2 separate regions of the Homo sapiens genome follow, and region 2 is linked to region 1. The links come from fine-mapping of genetic effects on gene expression. Tissue or cell type: whole blood. Region 1 holds a variant in brackets; the other region holds the start of a gene. All regions are shown on one strand. Distances are from middle to middle.

The links. PIP is the estimated chance that this variant, and not a neighbour inherited with it, causes the effect.
Region 2: MTA1 starts here. The variant in region 1 is fine-mapped to the expression of MTA1 in whole blood (TOPMed, PIP 0.94).

The regions. Positions count from the first base shown.
Region 1 is chr14:105,467,075-105,475,074 of GRCh38, reverse strand. It overlaps MTA1 (metastasis associated 1), which reads right to left. Exons shown (of 21, transcript NM_004689.4): 19 at 5,577-5,608; 20 at 5,083-5,234; 21 at 4,346-5,010. The coding sequence ends at 4,860. It overlaps CRIP2 (cysteine rich protein 2), which reads right to left and starts at 254. Exons shown (of 8, transcript NM_001312.4): 1 at 170-254. The coding sequence starts at 212. RefSeq lists silencers at 232-341, 522-591, 862-1,011, 1,102-1,191, 1,202-1,251 and enhancers at 1,280-1,812, 3,368-4,231. The variant C/T (reference allele first, on the strand shown) is at 4,140.
Region 2 is chr14:105,415,585-105,423,584 of GRCh38, reverse strand. It overlaps MTA1 (metastasis associated 1), which reads right to left and starts at 3,758. Exons shown (of 21, transcript NM_004689.4): 1 at 3,522-3,758. The coding sequence starts at 3,549. MTA1-DT (MTA1 divergent transcript) reads left to right here and starts at 3,846. Exons shown (of 2, transcript NR_125385.1): 1 at 3,846-4,563; 2 at 5,276-6,004. RefSeq lists enhancers at 876-1,545, 1,546-2,213, 4,892-5,561 and silencers at 3,665-3,924, 4,015-4,064, 4,095-4,194.

The sequences.
Region 1 (8,000 bases):
TTGGCTTTAGCCGCTTGGGCAGCGCGGCCAGCCAGCCTCCGGGACGCGCATCCTCGGTCCGGGGCCGGGGCCGGGCGCACCCCGAGTTACGCCGCGGCTCTGCGGCGCGGGACTGGCCGCGAAGGGCGGCGGGATGCACCGAGCGGGCCGGGAGCGGGCACGCACTCACCGAAGTACACGGTCTTGTCGCACTTGGGGCATTTGGAGGCCATGGTCGGTGCGCCCGGTCGGCCCGCGCCCTCCGCCCGTTCTCCTCCGGGCCGCCGCCGCCCGCGCCCAGCCCCGCCTGCCCGGCTGTCCGCGCGCCCATTGGCTCCGCGGCCGGGGCGGGGCCTCGATAACCCGTCCCCCGGGCTGGGGGCCGCCTGGGGGCGCCGCGGGGGCGGGGCGCACCTGCCGGGGGTGGCGGGTGCGGGGCAGCCGGGCCAGGCCTGGCGCCCCCGGGCCCCTCGCGCCGGAGGTGGCGTCTACAGGGGCCCGCCCGGGCGACCGCGGCGCCGCCCGCGCCCCGGCTGTTTCCATGGCGACGTCGGGGCCGCCTGGCCGGGCCGTCCCCGGGGCGGCGGGCAGGGTGCGGGGAGCCTGGCCCTCGGCTCTCGGGGAGCCCTAGTGACTTGGGCCTAGGGGTCCAACACTCCCGGCCCTGGGCGCCCAGGCTGCGCTCCGCCGCGGGAAGGGGTCGCAGGCTCCGGGAGAACCCCACCCCCACCCCGCCGCGCGCGGCGCCTGTCCCGCTTCCCTTTGTTGCTCGGTTTCCATAGCAACAGCCGCGCCGCGGGAGCGGAGTCAGATTCCCGGCGGGCACGGCCCCCAGCCCTGTCCGGGTCTCCATGTCCCGCTCCGCCCCCGCCCGCGCCCCGCCCCAACACTGTCTGTGGTGCTGAAGGCTCCTTGGGTGGAGGGCAGGGCTCAGGAAGGAAGGCGCCGCCACCTCCAGAAACAGCTCGAGAAGCTGCTGGTAGGGGGTGTGGGGAGGTCTGCGTCTGCCTCCCAGGCAGGGAAGGGGCGGCGGGCACCAGCGCCGAGGGATCCGCGCTTAAGGCGTCCACCCCAAGCACTTCCACCCAGGGGGCGGCCGGGGAGGCGGTGAGGAGTTAGGAAGGGAAGGAGGGGAAGGAGTGGGCGTGCCCTCTGTGCCCCGGGCTGGGGCTGACACTCCAGTCCCTTCTCCCGCACCGCCCAGGACCAGCTGCGTGCCTGGGGGCCCAGGGCCTGACCTCGAGGGGTCAGGCGGGAGATTGAGGGGTCATGCCAGTCACCGCACCCCCACACCCCCACTCTGGCCTCCTCCCAACCAGGGCGTGCCTGACCACGCCTCACCACAGTGCCTCCGCCCTAGAGCCCCGTAGAGCCTGGCCCCAGGTGGGGAACCTCCGCACCCACGGGCTTCCTGGTGCTCTGTCCCCATGGGCCCTTCTCTGAGCCTTCTGGCCCCAGCTGAGCGTCGGCCTGGGAGACAGGCAGATCCCAGAAGCCCAGTGATCAGGCCCTATGGGGGCAGCTGACTCTGGACACCCTTCCCCCTGTGTCTTGGAGGCTGTGGGCTGGACACGGAGACCTACCTGTTCCCTCTGCCTGGTGCACCAGGCATGTTTGTGAGCCAACCAGAGGCCCTCGGTGCTCCTGGCTTTCATGGTGGTCCTGGCTGGGCTCTCTGTGGCAGCACCCTCCTCCCTTGCACACACACCCTGCAGCCACTGCCATTTCCATGGTGACAGCAGGCCAGAAACATGCCCCCCGCCCCCCCGCCCGACTGACCAGCCTGACCAGCTCCCCCTCTGCACTTGGGACCTGTGCCAGCCAAGGCAGAAGATGGTGAGGAGGCATCAGTCAGTACCTTTTCTGGGCAGCCCTTCCTCCCTGGCAGGCCCAGGGGTCCCTAGGGGTCCCTCACAGCAGGGCCTTGCCCAGGCTGGATTCATGGGCCCACTGCCAAACCCTCTCCAGCTCCCTGCCCTGTTCTGCCCAGCTTGGGAGCCTGGGGCTAAGCCATTACCCTCCCTGACTTTGCTACCTGTGGGGCTTGCTACCTGTGGGGCTTGCTCTGGAGGACAGGGCTGGCTGAACACAGGGCTCTTCTGGAGGGAGACCACCTGCCCCAAGGTCCCCAGCCCTGCCAGAAGAGTGGATGGGGGTAGAGGCAGGCCCCTCCCAGGGTGGCAGCAAAGGAATGGCATTCGGCACTGGCCAGGTGCCCTGGAGACACACGGAGGGTGGGGTGGGACAAGGAGTGTGCCAGCTGCTGCACTGCCCTCACCCCAGCCGCAGTCCCTGGGCAGCGGCCAGAAGCTCCCTAATGCGACGGGGCTATTCTGGGCCTGGCAGGCAGGGGTCAGGATCAATGGGTGCAGAGCAGTGGCCTTGGTCTCCACCTCTGAGGCTGCGGTGGGTCACAGGCAGGGGCAGTGACACAGTGGGACGGGCCCGAGTGGAGAGGGGGGCACAGGACACGGCGGGTGTGAAGGGAGCTGGCAGGGCTGATGGCTGGGCATGGGGCTGGGTCACACCCCTGGGCTGCAGTGGTCTGGTCCCTTCCGCCATCCTGTGACACTGGCAGATAGCAGGCCCCTGCTACTCAGCTCCACTGCAGGGAAGCCAGGCTGGGCTGAGTGGTGGACAGAGGACCCTAGCAGGGTGGAGCGGAGCTGGCAGGACAGGTCTCCAGGCATGACAGCATGATGGCCTTGCCACCCTGAGATGCCCCTGGCCCTGGGGAGCCGCGGCCCCTGTGGGGTTGCTGGTGCAGAAAGCAGGCTGCTGTCTCATCAGCAGGGAAGGGCCTAACGAGGACATAGCAAAGCTGGGAGACCCCTTCATGGCCTGGGCACCAAGGCCAATGCTCCCCCCAGCCGGTACCCACTCACTTCTAAGCCCAGGTTTAGACCCACAAGCAGCCCAGGCCCCACCCAGCACCGGTGGCCAGAGCTTGGCCCTGTGAGGGCACTGCAGCCTGGGTGTCTGGCCGGGGAGGGTGTCTGGGGTGGGAAAGGGCCCCACATCTCCTCAGGGCCTCCCTGCCCTTGGGATAGAGCCCAGGACCTAGGACACCTCACAGCCCACATGTTGACTCCAGAAAAGGACAGGCCCTGGGGGGTGGAAGAGCTGCTGAGGCCAGAACCCTGCAGCCAGCACTGGGAGGCAAGCCCGAGGCCTGGGGAAGGGAGACAAGGGAGCTGGGGTCTTCACTGAGCTCCAGACCCCCAGGGTTGGAAAAGGCCTCAGAGGGAGCTGTGTCCTTCATGAGGTCAGGGGCCTGATTTCCCAGCCGTCTGATGACGCACTACAGGCAAGTCCTCAGGCTGTGGGGTCACTCGGATGCTGGCTGCAGATTAGAGTTGGCTGGTGGGGGCTGGGGTTGGGTGGGGGGGCGCCACAGCCCAGGGAGGGTGGGTGGGACGTGCACTGCAGCCGAGTCCCTGACACCTAGTCCTGTCACTGCTGGGCCCCAGCACAGGCTCCCACGGAGGCCAGGACGCCCCCTTATCTTTGTCTCCTGGGAGACAGCAGAAGTGGTTTCTATTTTAATTCCGTGGCTGAGATTTCCACATGACAGGGCGCCTGGGTGGGCTGGGGGAGCAAAGGCACAGCTCTGGGGAGAGACAGAGGAGCTACTCTCCCTGAGCGAGGCCTGGGCGGACCCCTCCTGGCCGGCTGAGGTAGCACGGCCAGGGGGGTGGTCTGGAGCCAGGCTATCCACCGGACCCCTCCTTCTGGTGGCCCGGCCTGTACCTGTCCCCCGGCCTGCAAGTCCTGTCCCCGGCCGGAGGATGGGCCAAGCAGGATTTCTGAGAATGTGCTTGCAGAAATCTAAGCAGATTCTCACTGTGGAGACTGCACACCTGCTTGGGGGCCAGAGCTCTGGGCAGAAACCCTCAGGCGGCTGGGGCCAGGCTCTACATGGCCAGGAGGTTGGGCCTCTGGCTGGAGCACTCCAAGGCCTCGCTGGCCCAGCTGCACTGGCTGCCCTGGTGGGAAGCCACAGGGTCTTCGGCAGGGCCAGCTCTGCCTGCCGGGAGGCAGTCCCCGGCCCACCGCTGCCGCAGACACAGACGCACAGACGGTTTCAGCACAGCTCTGCTGGGGAAGGGGGTTGGGCCCTGCAACCGCTTGCTGCCCCCTGGGGAGGGCAGAGGGCACCG[C/T]GCCAGGCCCCAGCAGGGGAAGGTCTGTGGGCAGGTGGGAGAGCAACAGAGCCCAGAGGCTGGGGTGGCTGTCCTGGCTGAGGTGGCCTCCAGGGGCCTCCAGCTCCACGGCAGAGCCACAGCCTAGGGCCGCCCGATGGGGGTGGGGGGCCCAGGGCCTGAGTCAGGGAGAGGGACTGGGAACAAAAGACACAGGGAAGGACCGGTTGGTTTTTTTCCTTTTTATAAGATTTTTTTTCTTTGTTTTTGTTTAATATGAAAATTACTTGAAAAGACAAGGGCCAACCCCGCCAGGCAGCTCGGCCGGCCGCGGCCGCACGATCCTAACATTCCAGGTGTAAGTTACAGAGCTCAAGTTCATCTACAAAAAAAGTAATAAAAATAAAATTTAAAATGGCACCTTCAACAGAACACAACAAAACCTTAGGGCCCGGCCTCCGGGCAAAAGGCCCCGCAGCACAGGGGCACGGGGTGGCCCCTCATCTCCGCTCCAGCCAAAAAGTAAACACAAAGCTAAAAACGACAACTCCTCGGCATTCTCGGAATAAGTTAGCCGCGCTTCTTCCTCTCCTCCCCCAGTGTCCGCCAAGGAGCGCGTTTCTCTGCAGGTGAGGGCGGGAGGTGGGGCACTACCAAACTGAGGGGCGGGCGGCGGGCTGGCTGGGAAGGGGCCGTGTGGGCGGGCGAGGGGCGGGGGGCGGCCGCAGGTGGGGGCGGCCCCTAGTCCTCGATGACGATGGGCTCGTCGTTGACGGGCGCAGGTGGCGGTGGCCGCGGCGGCAGGGCCTGGCTCTGGCGCAGGGCGATGGGCTTGTAGGGCCGGCGGGCAGCACGCTTGGTTTCCGAGGATGAGAGCAGCTTGCGGATCTTCCTGTGGGCAGAGGTGGTGGTGAGGGCCGGGACGCTGTGCGGAGCCCTCCCGCCTGCCCTGGGAAGGCCCCACCTGGTCTCCTCTGTGGCCATGTAGAACACGTCATCCGGGGCGTCGATCCAGTTCATCCGCCGCCGCTTGACTGGGGGCAGGGAGCCCCCCCGGATCAGGCGCACTTTGGTGGGGTAGGACTTCCCGTTGAGCAGGAGGTTCCGGCTTGGTCCCTGCAGAGGGGGTGCACTTCCTGGGCAGCCAGCCAAGGGCCAGCTCCACCTCAACCTGCAGGGCTCCCGCTGGGAGGTGCTGTGCCTGGCCAACCCCCCACCACCCCAGTGAGTTACACGGACCCCCAGCCTGGCCCAGGGCAGCCCTGAGGGCTGGTCGGCCGCACACCGCTGGGCCTGGCACAGGGGCCATGGCCCCCACATGCTGCAGCCCCTCTGGTCTTGCCAGGCCTCCTGGAAGCTTCCACGTGGCACCTGGCAGGGCTGGCCAGGCCTCTTCCCAACACCCCAGAGAGCTCATGGGTGAGCGCACCGTACCCCATCATGGGTTGTTCCTCTTACCATGTGCCTGGCCTGTCCGTGGTTTGCCAGACCTGATGAGAAATGGAGGAGAGAAATGAGGCCCCGAGAGAGCGCGTCCTGCACTCCCACCGCCCACCACGGCCTCAGCCACCTTGGGACAATGGGCCGGGGCCATCTGCCAACCAAGCCACAGCCCACACCCAGGATGGGCCTGGGGGACGTGGGGCCTCGCATCCCCGGGTCCTGGGCCGCCTGGTGGCCCCACAGCTCTCTGGCCAGCAAGAGACACATTGGCTTGGGCTCCAGGCAGGAGGCCAGGAGCCTTGGACCCGACAGTCACCTCCCTGCACAGGGGCCGGGGCTGTCCACCCACTTGCCTGCCGTGCCGAGACAAGCAAAGCCTCGCAAGGCTGTCAGTCCAGCAGCGGCACAAGCCCCTCTGCAGGGCAGCCACGCTGTGGCCGGCACTGCCCCACCAGGAGGCCGGGCTTTTTCCTAAGGCTCTGAGAGAGCCGCCAGCCCCGGCCAGAAACAGGTCACCACCCACTGCCCTGGCTGGGCCCCAGCCACCCTGGCATGTGCTTGGGGATGGGGTGCCAGAGGCCTCTGACTTCCCACAGTGCAGGGTGAGGAGCCCAAGGGGCACTGCGGGAGTTGGGCCAAGAAGCGGGGTCCATGCTCCTGGTCACCCCCAGCTGGGCCCAGGACCGCCGCTGCCCTCCCCCACTCACTGCCCTTCCCCACTGCCCTGTGTGTAGGTGTGGGCGTGTGCATGTGGGAGCTGGTCCCAGGATGGCTCGGCTCCCAGCAGGACCAGCTCAGAGAGGACAGGATGTCATACTCAACTCAGTCAGGTGCCAGGGCCCAGGGGCATCGGAGCAACCTGCCAGCTCCAGAAACGCTGCTTAGCTGAGGCCCATCCCTTAAGGAACAGAAGCAGCCTGTCCAGCCCCTCCCCACCTGCAGTTGCCTCCTAACTTGGGGCACTCCCCTGGGGGCCAACTGGGGCCCTGGAGCCCTGGGTCAGCCTTTCCCTGCCAGTTTGCTTAGCTCTGCCGGGCAGGGTCAGGTGGGGGCCCAGGTGCCTGATCTGCGGCGCTCCCAAGCAGGAACAGCCATACCTCAGGGCACCTGCCACAAGCCAAGGCCCAGCGCCCAGGGCTGGCCAGTAGCACAAAAACTACTTACCCAGGTAAGTGCCTACCAGAGCGGTGGACAGCAGAGGGAAGAAACACATGCTTTAGGTTAGTGAGCCACACGCAGCCATCTGCAGGCCCCGCAGGTGGGGACAGCGCAACAGGCTGCACGGGCAAATGGCCGGGTTAGAGCGCTGGGGCCCCGTGCTGTGGGCAGGCAGGGCCCTCACTCGAGCTCAGCTCATGCCTACCCAGGCTGGACAGAGACCCCACCTCGTGTGCGCCAGTGCCCCCGGGAGCCGTCTTCACCCAGCTGGCCCCTCTCCAGCGCCCAGGTCCTGGCCGCTACACGTCAGGACAGGCGCTTCCTCTGTGGCTGACCCCTCTGAGCCCAGGGCCCCGCCCAGCCAGGCGGCAAGGGGTGATGCTCCCTCACAAGCACTGCATGGCTGGGACTCACGTGTGAGGTGTGGAAAATTCAGTGGGAACAAATAAGCTTTTATGTAACTTGCTGGTTAACCGCTTTTTACAAAACAAAACAAAAAGCTCGAAGATGCCTGCTGACAAGGACTCCCTCCTGTTTCTACCAGCTCTTATGGGGCTGTTCCTGGGACGCCCTGCCATTAGGAACAGACAAGTAAAGCCAGCCCAGAGTGGGCTGGCCCTGGGCCCAGGACTAGGCAATGGGGGCAGCCCCAATACCAGATGGCTGGGAGGGTGCCCCAGGAAAGGAGGGCTGGGGCTGGGGCCGAGACACAGACACCGCCAAGGGATGTCGGGAGGAAGCTGCAAGGACAGGCCAGGGGTGCGTGTCCAGACAGGTGGAGATGGGGGGCCCGGCACCCGATCTCAGGCCCACCCTGCGCTGCAGCCGGCGTGCTGACCCCACAGGACGTGCCTGCCAGGACACCCAGCAGCCTCGAGAGAATGCCCCAAGGGGACAGGGTTGGCTGGGCTGGGCAGCCACTACCCATATCCACCTCCAGGTCGCCAAACCGGCCCTGCTGCCCTGGCCAGCACCGTCAGTGAAAGCCGCCTGGCGAAGGGGCTCCAGGCACATCCACACTGGCAGGCCCAGCACTTGCACACCCGGGCCCCACACACCTGGCCTCCTCATGCTAGGCTTGGTCCTATCTGCTCTTCCCCAAGGGGCCTGGGGTCCCGCAGCCCCTGCTCCAAGCAACCGGCACAGAGCACCTGAGCCAGTCCTCCGACAGAAGGCACCCATGTGTACAAGCTCAGTTGCCCACGGCCCACACAGACACCCCCGACCACCCTCCCCACTGTCCCGCCTGGCAGGCGCACGGAAGGATTGCAGGCACAGCAC
Region 2 (8,000 bases), 51 kb after region 1:
ATTTTTTTTTTTTGATACGGAGTCTCACTCTGTCACCCAGCCTCAACTTTTATTAAAATTAAAACAAAAAGGCCGGGCATGAGCTCACGCCTGTAATCCCAGCACTTTCGGAGGCCGAAGCGGGTGGATCACTTGAGGTCAGGAGTTCCAGACCAGCCTGACCAACATGGAGAAACGCCGTCTCTACTAAAAATGTAAAACTTAACCAGGCCTGGTGGCGCCTGGCTAGTCCCAGCTACTTGGGAGGCTGAGGCAGGAAATCGCTTGGGCCGGGGAGGCGGAGGTTGCAGTGAGCCGAAATCGCGCCTCTGCACTCCAGCTTGGGCCACAGAGCAAGACTCCATCTCAAAAAAAAAAAAAAAAAAAAAATTAAACAAAAAAAATCCAAAAGATGGGGTGTTAACCTCTTGCAATGAAAAACAGAAACACCCAAGGCAAAATGGTAATGGCCTGTCCACTGAAAAGCAGAAGCCCCACATGAGCAAGCTGCAGGCGGCTGGCAGGCACCGATTCCTGCTGTCCTGTTTTGGATGCTATCTAACATCTTCATGTTCAACCCAGAGAAGAAACATCCCGCCGTTGCCCTGGGGCCCTCTCATCCCACAGCAGGTTTCAAGCCTTCCCCAGCCCTCGGGATGGACAACCCTTGAGAAGCAGAGGTCAGGGAACCCTGACCCCGCCACCCTTGCCCAGGCCATCCGCTGCCCTCACAGGCACAGACAGAAGGCCTCTGTCCGTGGCCAGGGCACTCCATGGGGAAGAAACAGGCCCTGTTCCCTCCCTGCTCACCACTTCACCCAGCTCAGCTGGCACAAAAATACTGCCACCACACCTTCACCCTGCCTAGCCCAACCTGGCAGGGCCTCGGAGTAGCCTGCCAGCTAAAATACGGGTTGCCCAGATAACTGTGAATGTCAGATAAGAATCTTCTGGGACAAGTATGTCCCATGCCATATTTGGGACATACTTACACTAATAAATTTCTGTTTATCTGAAACTCAAATTTGCCTGGGCGTCCTGTACTTTTCTTAACTAAATTTGGTGCCTCTACACACAAGGTCCCTGGGGTGGGGGGGCACAGGAGCAAGCCCCTTCCCAGGCTGGGTCCCTGCCGGCATCTCCCACAGGCCAGGACTGGCCACCCAGATGGAGCCCGTGCCAGGCAGCCGGCGACAGACGGACAAAGGCTGCTCAGGAGACACTGCACACCTTCCTCTTTCTTGTCTGGGGGCTCAAGAATCCAGACGCCCACCTCCCCGAGCGAGCACCAAGACAGGAAGCCAACCTGCAATGCCCAGCCCACTGCGACCACAGGGCTCTGCCGGGGTCCTGCCGGAACCCAGGGTTCCGGTCCAGAAGCCAGGGATAAATGCCGCTTCTCCTATAGGGACAGTCAGAGTAGAGAGGGGGAGGCCTACAGTCTCACCTGCAGGGAGAGGAAGTCCTCGGGGCGGGCACGTGGGGGGCCTGACAGCTCCGAGCACACCCGGCCACAGTGACCACGGACTGCACACGCAGAAGCAGTCTGGATCCCACGCGTGGCTGTGCTGCCAGCAGACAGCACCCAACCTCCCATGCTCCTCATCACAGGAAAAGAGACCAGCAGCATCTCTGCCAGGCATGGTGGGGCCCCTCCGCCACAGCCTAGGAGTCCAGGCCACCCACCCTCACAGCACTGGAGTGCGTGGGTCAGTGAGGCCCTGGGACGGGCCTGCGGGCACAGGGGGACAGAGGGTTCGGGGAGGGCGGCGCAGCCCCACGAAGGGCTCCTCCCAAGCCTGTGTGGGGCCCAGGGGAGCTGCACCTCCGGGATGGGACAAGGCAGGGTCCTGGCTTTCATCAGCCACAGCACAGCTGCCACAGGGCACAAAAGGACGGCTGAGAGACGAGGTCCTCACCCACACCATGGGGAAACCGAGGCATGGGAAGGTTGGAGGGGGGGCAGCCAGGCTGGCGCCAAGATCACAGGCAGGCAGGCCTGAAGGCCGAGCAATGCAGCCACTAGGAAGGCATGAGTTGGGGTCGGGGTGTCCCCAGCCCTAGAGCCCAAAGCTGCCACCACTCCCCACCCCCAACATGGGTGGGGGCAGGGAGAGCTCTTCTTGGGACCAATCCCAAAACCATGCGCAGTGGGCCCGGCTGGAGCCCAGGCAGCAGGCATCCTCTCTGCCAGGGTGAGAAACTGGGCCCTCATGTCAGGCTGGAAGGGGGGTCTCCAGGTGGGGAGAAAGAACAGGAAGGAACAGGCCCCTCCCTCGAGGGACCCCGCACCCAGGCTGCTCCCTGAGCGTGGGGTGGGCTCAGCGCACCTGGGTCCACACAGGGACCTGGCAAAGCTGTATGAGGCTGTGGGAGGGGCTGCCGCTGGATGGGGTACAGGCCCACCGCCCCTCTGAGAGGACAGGGGAGGCCCAGAGCTGCTGATGCGGACTGACCGCCCATCTCACAGACGGGATGTAGGGGGCTCCCACCGTCCCCAAGGTCACAGGACTGGCCGGCCAGACCACACGGCGTCCAAGGCAGCAGAAGCCACGCTCGAGAGACACAGAGTGTTCTGGGCACTCGGGGTCAGGGGCATGGGGATCAAGCCAGAGCGGGAGTGACCCCAGCTCCCTCCAGCAGCGCAGGCTGCAGGTGGGAAAGGTAATGAGCACCTGCCCGAGAGGGTCACAGGCAGGGAGGGGTCTCAGAGTCCTGGGGAGGGAGGCGCTGATGGAATGATGGAATGCACACGACCCCCCACCTTCCTGTGAAAGACCCCACGGAGTCCCAGGCACACGAAGGAGGGCAAGGCTCAAAGCTGCAGGCCCGGGGGGCCCGAGCAACAGGAGGCTGGGCCCACGGAGGAAGCCCCTGCCCAGGAGGCCCTCCGGCCTCTCCCCAACCCTTGCAAAGCGCCTCCCGAATGGGCTGAGGTGAGCGAGAGGCAGGGAAAAGTTTGGGGGGACTTAGAGGCGTGCTCGGGATGCTCGCTCCCTGCTGAAGACCCCCTGAGGGATCCCTGCTGGGGGAAGCCCCGGGGCCAGGCTGCAGGAGGGCTCTAGGGAGGAACGTGGCCCCTCACCGGGGCTCCCCATCCCCAGAGGGGATGCACCGGAGTCCCAGCACAGGGCCGCGGGCCGGGGGAGACCCCACAGCCCCAAAACTCCTGCTCCCAGACCGGCAGCCGGCGCCTCCCAAGGCCACGTGCTCCCGCTGGGGGCTCCCGGCCCCGGACCCCCGGATGTCCCGCAGGCCCCGCGCCCCCCCGCCACCCCCGCGGCCGCCCCCTCGGCCCCAACAGGTGGGCCGCCCCCCACCCCCGGGCCGCCGAGCCCCGCCCGCCCCCGATGGGGCCGACCCGCGGGGCCATTTTGGGTTGGGGTGAGCACGGCGGGGGGCGGTTCGGGAAGGAGCCGGGGGCCGCGAGGGCGGGCGGGGGGCGCGGGGCCTGCGGGGCAGAGGGGCGGGGGAGGCGGCAGCGGCGGCGGGTGGGGGCTGCGGGCGGGTCGGGGCCGGGCATAAAGGCGGTGCGGCCTTACCTCCGACCCTGTACATGTTGGCGGCCATGTCCGGGCCGGCGGCGGCGGAGGGGCCCGGGGCGGGCGCGGCGCTCGGCGCGGGCGGCCGGGAAAATGGAGGCGCGATGGCGGGGGCGGGGGGCGCCGCAGGCGTTTAAAGGGGCCGCGCTGCTGCCGCCGCCGCCGCCGCCGCCGCCGCCGAGGCCGCCGAGGCCGCGCAGGGACGGGAGGGCCGCGGCGCGGGCGGGAGAGGAAGAGGAGGAGCGGCCGCGGGCGGCGGGGAGGGGCCTCGGGCGCCGCCGCCCACCGCACGGGCCGTTACCGACCCCGCGCCGCCCGCGGCCCGCGCGCCCCTTCCCGGACAGTTCCTCTCGGCGCCCCCGAGTCCTCCCCGCGCGCCGCTTCCCGGGTGGGCCCTTCCACCAGAACCCCCTGGTAGATCCTCCCCTGGTGCCCTGGGGGTAGAGGGGAGATCCTCCACAAGGGCCATTTCCCTGGTGATCCCTCCCTGTGCCCCACAGGTGAGTCCTGCCGTAGCTCTCCAGGGGTTCCTCCTGATGCTGGGGTCCTCCGGCATTCCTCCCTGAGCCCCCCAAGGGCCCTGAAGCTCAGCGGCCCAGCCCTGGCCTCGGGGTCCCCACCCCACACCTCCCTTCCAGGCCTAACCTTTGCCCCCGACACCAGGCAGGGCGTGTCCTTGGCCTTCGCCGCCCAGCCCGCGTGGCATCTCTGGACAGGTGGTCGTGCGCGCCTTGGTGTGGGCAGGCTCCGTAGCCGGCAAAGCCTCCCTGAACCGTGACCTGGTGAGAAGGCCGCAGAGGAGGTGCCTGTGCCCAGAGGCCACCTCCAAAGACCCCACCTGAGGCTGGAACCCAGCGCCTGCTGACCCCGCCAGCCCCAACAGGGCTGGAGTCCAGGAGCGGCCGTGCTCTTTCCGCAGTGAGGCAGCTGCCTTCTCTTCCCACCACCTGTCAGGATGCCTTCCCGTGTGTGCTTGTGCACAGGTCTAAGGAGAGGAGAGTCCAGTGAGTGACCCAGACGCCCCAGCCAGGAAGAGCATGAGGTGCGAAGGGGGCTTCCCAGATGGAGAGAAACAGATGGTCCCAGAGTGGCTTGGAGACAGGTGCAACATCAGTGTTGGGGGAGGTGAGCAAAAGGAGCTGTCTCGGGGTTCCAGGCTGCTGATGTGAGCAGCACCGTGGGTCTCTGTCCTGCCTGCTCAGATGCTGGAGGGAGCTGACATCTACTTGGGACATCCCTCTCTGTAGGACATGGAGCGGAGCGTTCAGGGCTATCAGGAGGGAGCCCCGTGGCCACGGTGCAAGATCTAGGCAGGCGGGACAGACATGGTCAGGATGCTGGGGACACAGCATGGGGAATCCAGCACACAGGACACCATCCAGGTGGGTAGGAAACAGCATGTGCTGGGAGGAAAGCCAGGTGGGGGTCCCAAGGAGAGCGGTGGCCACAATGTCATGGCTGCAGAGCAGACCAGTAAGGAAAGCCCCACCAGGGTTAGCACAGGGCCAGGAACCCGAGCTGCAGGGCGGTGCTGTCTCTGGGGAGAGAGGGCTATGGGTCCCAGGACACATCCTGCGGGCTGGGCTGCAGGGAACAGGAGCTGGCTTGCTGGTGATTGGGAGGGAAGAGCAGCCAGCCAGCGGCCAGGTGCAGGAGAGGGGCAATGACAGACAGGCAGCGTCTCTCCAGAAGGAAGGTGGGGCTGCTGGCCTCCCCTGTCCTACAGCCCCAGCCTACCTCTGTCTCCTCAGCAGGAAAGCAAAGCTGCAGCCTGAGATCTCCTTCCACCAACTCCTGGCATGGCCAGAAAGTTAGCCAGAAACACCAGAAAGTGCCAGGCAGCTAGGAAGCATGGGGAGAGCCCCCTGAAGCTGCGTGTGTAGTGCCTGCTTCCGCTGCCATCCCAGAAATGGACGAGCTTCACCCTGAGAACCCAGCCACACCACTGGGACACATCCTGACAGTGACATGCACACTCTTCCCTGGCCCCAGCCTGGAGAGGAGCCTCCTGAAGACACCAGCCTTTGCTCCTTCTCCCAGTGGGAGTGGAGAGAACTGACTGCTGGAGTGGAGACAGTCAAGGCTGTCCTTCTGAGGGAGCACAGCACAGGGTCTGGTGTCCCAGGGAGGCAATCTGAAATTCAAGCCAGGCCTCCCCAGCGGAGAGGACACACCCCTCACCATGCAGAGTGACGTTTAGTAAACTCTCAAAAGAGAGCACAGAGCCCCACTCCTCCAGCCGACCCATACTCTGCCTCCCCACTCCAGACCAGTGAACAAGGTGGATTGCCCTTAAGCCAGCTCAGAGGCAAAGTCCAAAGACCTCAGGTGAGTCAAACAATAAAAACAAAGAATTAAGAAGAATCCAGCTGGGTGCGGTGGCTCACGCCTGTAATCCCAGCACTTTGGGAGGCTGAGGCGGGAGGATCACGAGCAGGAGGTCGAGACCATCCTGGCTAACACGGTGAAACCCCGTCTCTACTAAAAATAGAAAAAATTAGCTGGGCGTGGTGGCGGGCGCCTGTAGTCCCAGCTACTCCGGAGGCTGAGGCAGAAGAATGGCGTGAACCCAGGAAGCGGAGCTTGCAGTGAGCCGAGATCATGCCACTGCACTCCAGCCTGGGCGACAGAGCGAGACTCCGTCTCCAAAAAAAAAAAAAAAAAAAAAATCCATCCACTCCATCCACTTAGTAGCAGAGCGAATAGACATTCAGGAAAGAGCTTTCACGTCAGAAAGCACTACAGAAGTAGTGGCATATCCCCGGAGGCTGAGGTGGGAGCATTGCTGAGAGGTGGCACGTGACCACATCCATGTCATTCAACAACAGAAAAACAAGTCATCGAGGGTGTGAGGGGCCGGTGAGAAACCCAGTATGGAAGAAAACACAACTGGGCTGAGCGTGGTGGCTCACGCCTGTAATCCCAGCACTTTGGGAGGCCAAGGCAGGAGGATCACCTGAGGTCAGGAGTTCGAGACCAGCCTGGTCAACATAGTGAAACCTCATCTCTACTAAAAATACAAAAAAATTAACTGGGTGTGGTAGCGCGTGCCTGTAGTCCCAGCTACTCCGGAGGCTGAGGCAGGAGAATTGCATGAACCCAGGAGCCGAGACCACACCACTGCACTCCAGCCTGGGGGCGGCACAGTGAGACTCCGTCTCAAAGAAACAAAAATAAAAAATAAATAAATAAATAAATAAATAAATAAGAAAACGCAACCAAAGAAACAGAAGAGGACTCCACAGGACTTCTTTCAGAGCTTCATAGCAGCATGAATTCAACAATCAGGAATTCAAATGCTTGACGACAAAACAGCAGGATGGGAGGAAGAGTTAAGAGCCAAGCAAACCGGAAGCACCAAAATCGCACCGTGGCTGGATCAAGTCATAAACAGCAAAGGGCAGAATATCAAGTTACTTGGAGATGAAAGGCTTGAGATAATTTCAGAGCAAGACAAAGTGATTAACACAATAATTTACTCATTGATTATTTGTTAAACATCTACTTCAAGCTACAGGCCACTCTAGGCCTTGGAGGGTAAGGAAACAGCACCTTTGCCCTCAGAGGGTTTGCAATCTAGCAGGGAGGGGAACATAATAAAGTGTATAAAACCAGGGCTCTGGCTCTGAAGTTCCAGCACTTTGGGCAGGTCACTTGAACCCAGGAGTTTGAGACCAGCCTGGGCAACATAGTGAAAACCCATCTCTACTGAAAAATATAAAAATTAGCGGGGCGTGGTGGTGCATGCCTGTAGTCCCTGCTACTTGAGAGGCTGAGGCAGGAGGATAGCTTAGGCCTGAGAGGCATAGTTCGCAGTGAGCCGAGATAGCACCTCTGCACTGCGGCGTGGGTGGCAGAGCAAGACCCTGTCTAACAACAACAACAAAAACTGATCTTAAGTCCAGCCAGTAAAGATGTAAATCAAAACAAAGACTTTCAGTGGGTCAAATACTGGCGGTGAGCCTTGATCTTCTGGTAAGAAATGCCCTGCCAGGGGATATGGAAATGTCAGTGCCAGTTCCTCACCATTCACAGGCAGAAGTCAGCCGGTGCCGCCTCAGCCGAACCGTGCTTTGCTGCTGTAAACCAAACACACTCATCTCTTGATGTTTTTGTAATTTCTAAAAATAATCGTAGAAGACTTTTTTTTTTTTTTTTTTGGAGACAGGGTCTCACTCTGTCACCCAGGCTCAAGTGCAGTGGGCCTATCTCGGCTCACTGCAGCCTCGACTTCCTGAGCTCAAGCGATCCTCCCACCTCAGCCTCCCAAGTAGCTGGGACTACAGGAGAGCACCACCACGCCCGGCTGATTTTTGTATCTTCAGTATGGATGGAGCTTCCCTTTGTTGCCCAGGCTGTTCTCCAACTCCTGAGCTCAAGCGATCTGCCTGCCTTGGCTTCCCAAAGTGCCGGGATTACAGGCCTGAGCCACGGCGCCCGGCCATCGTAAGGAGACTTTTAAACTTGAGGTGAAGAAGC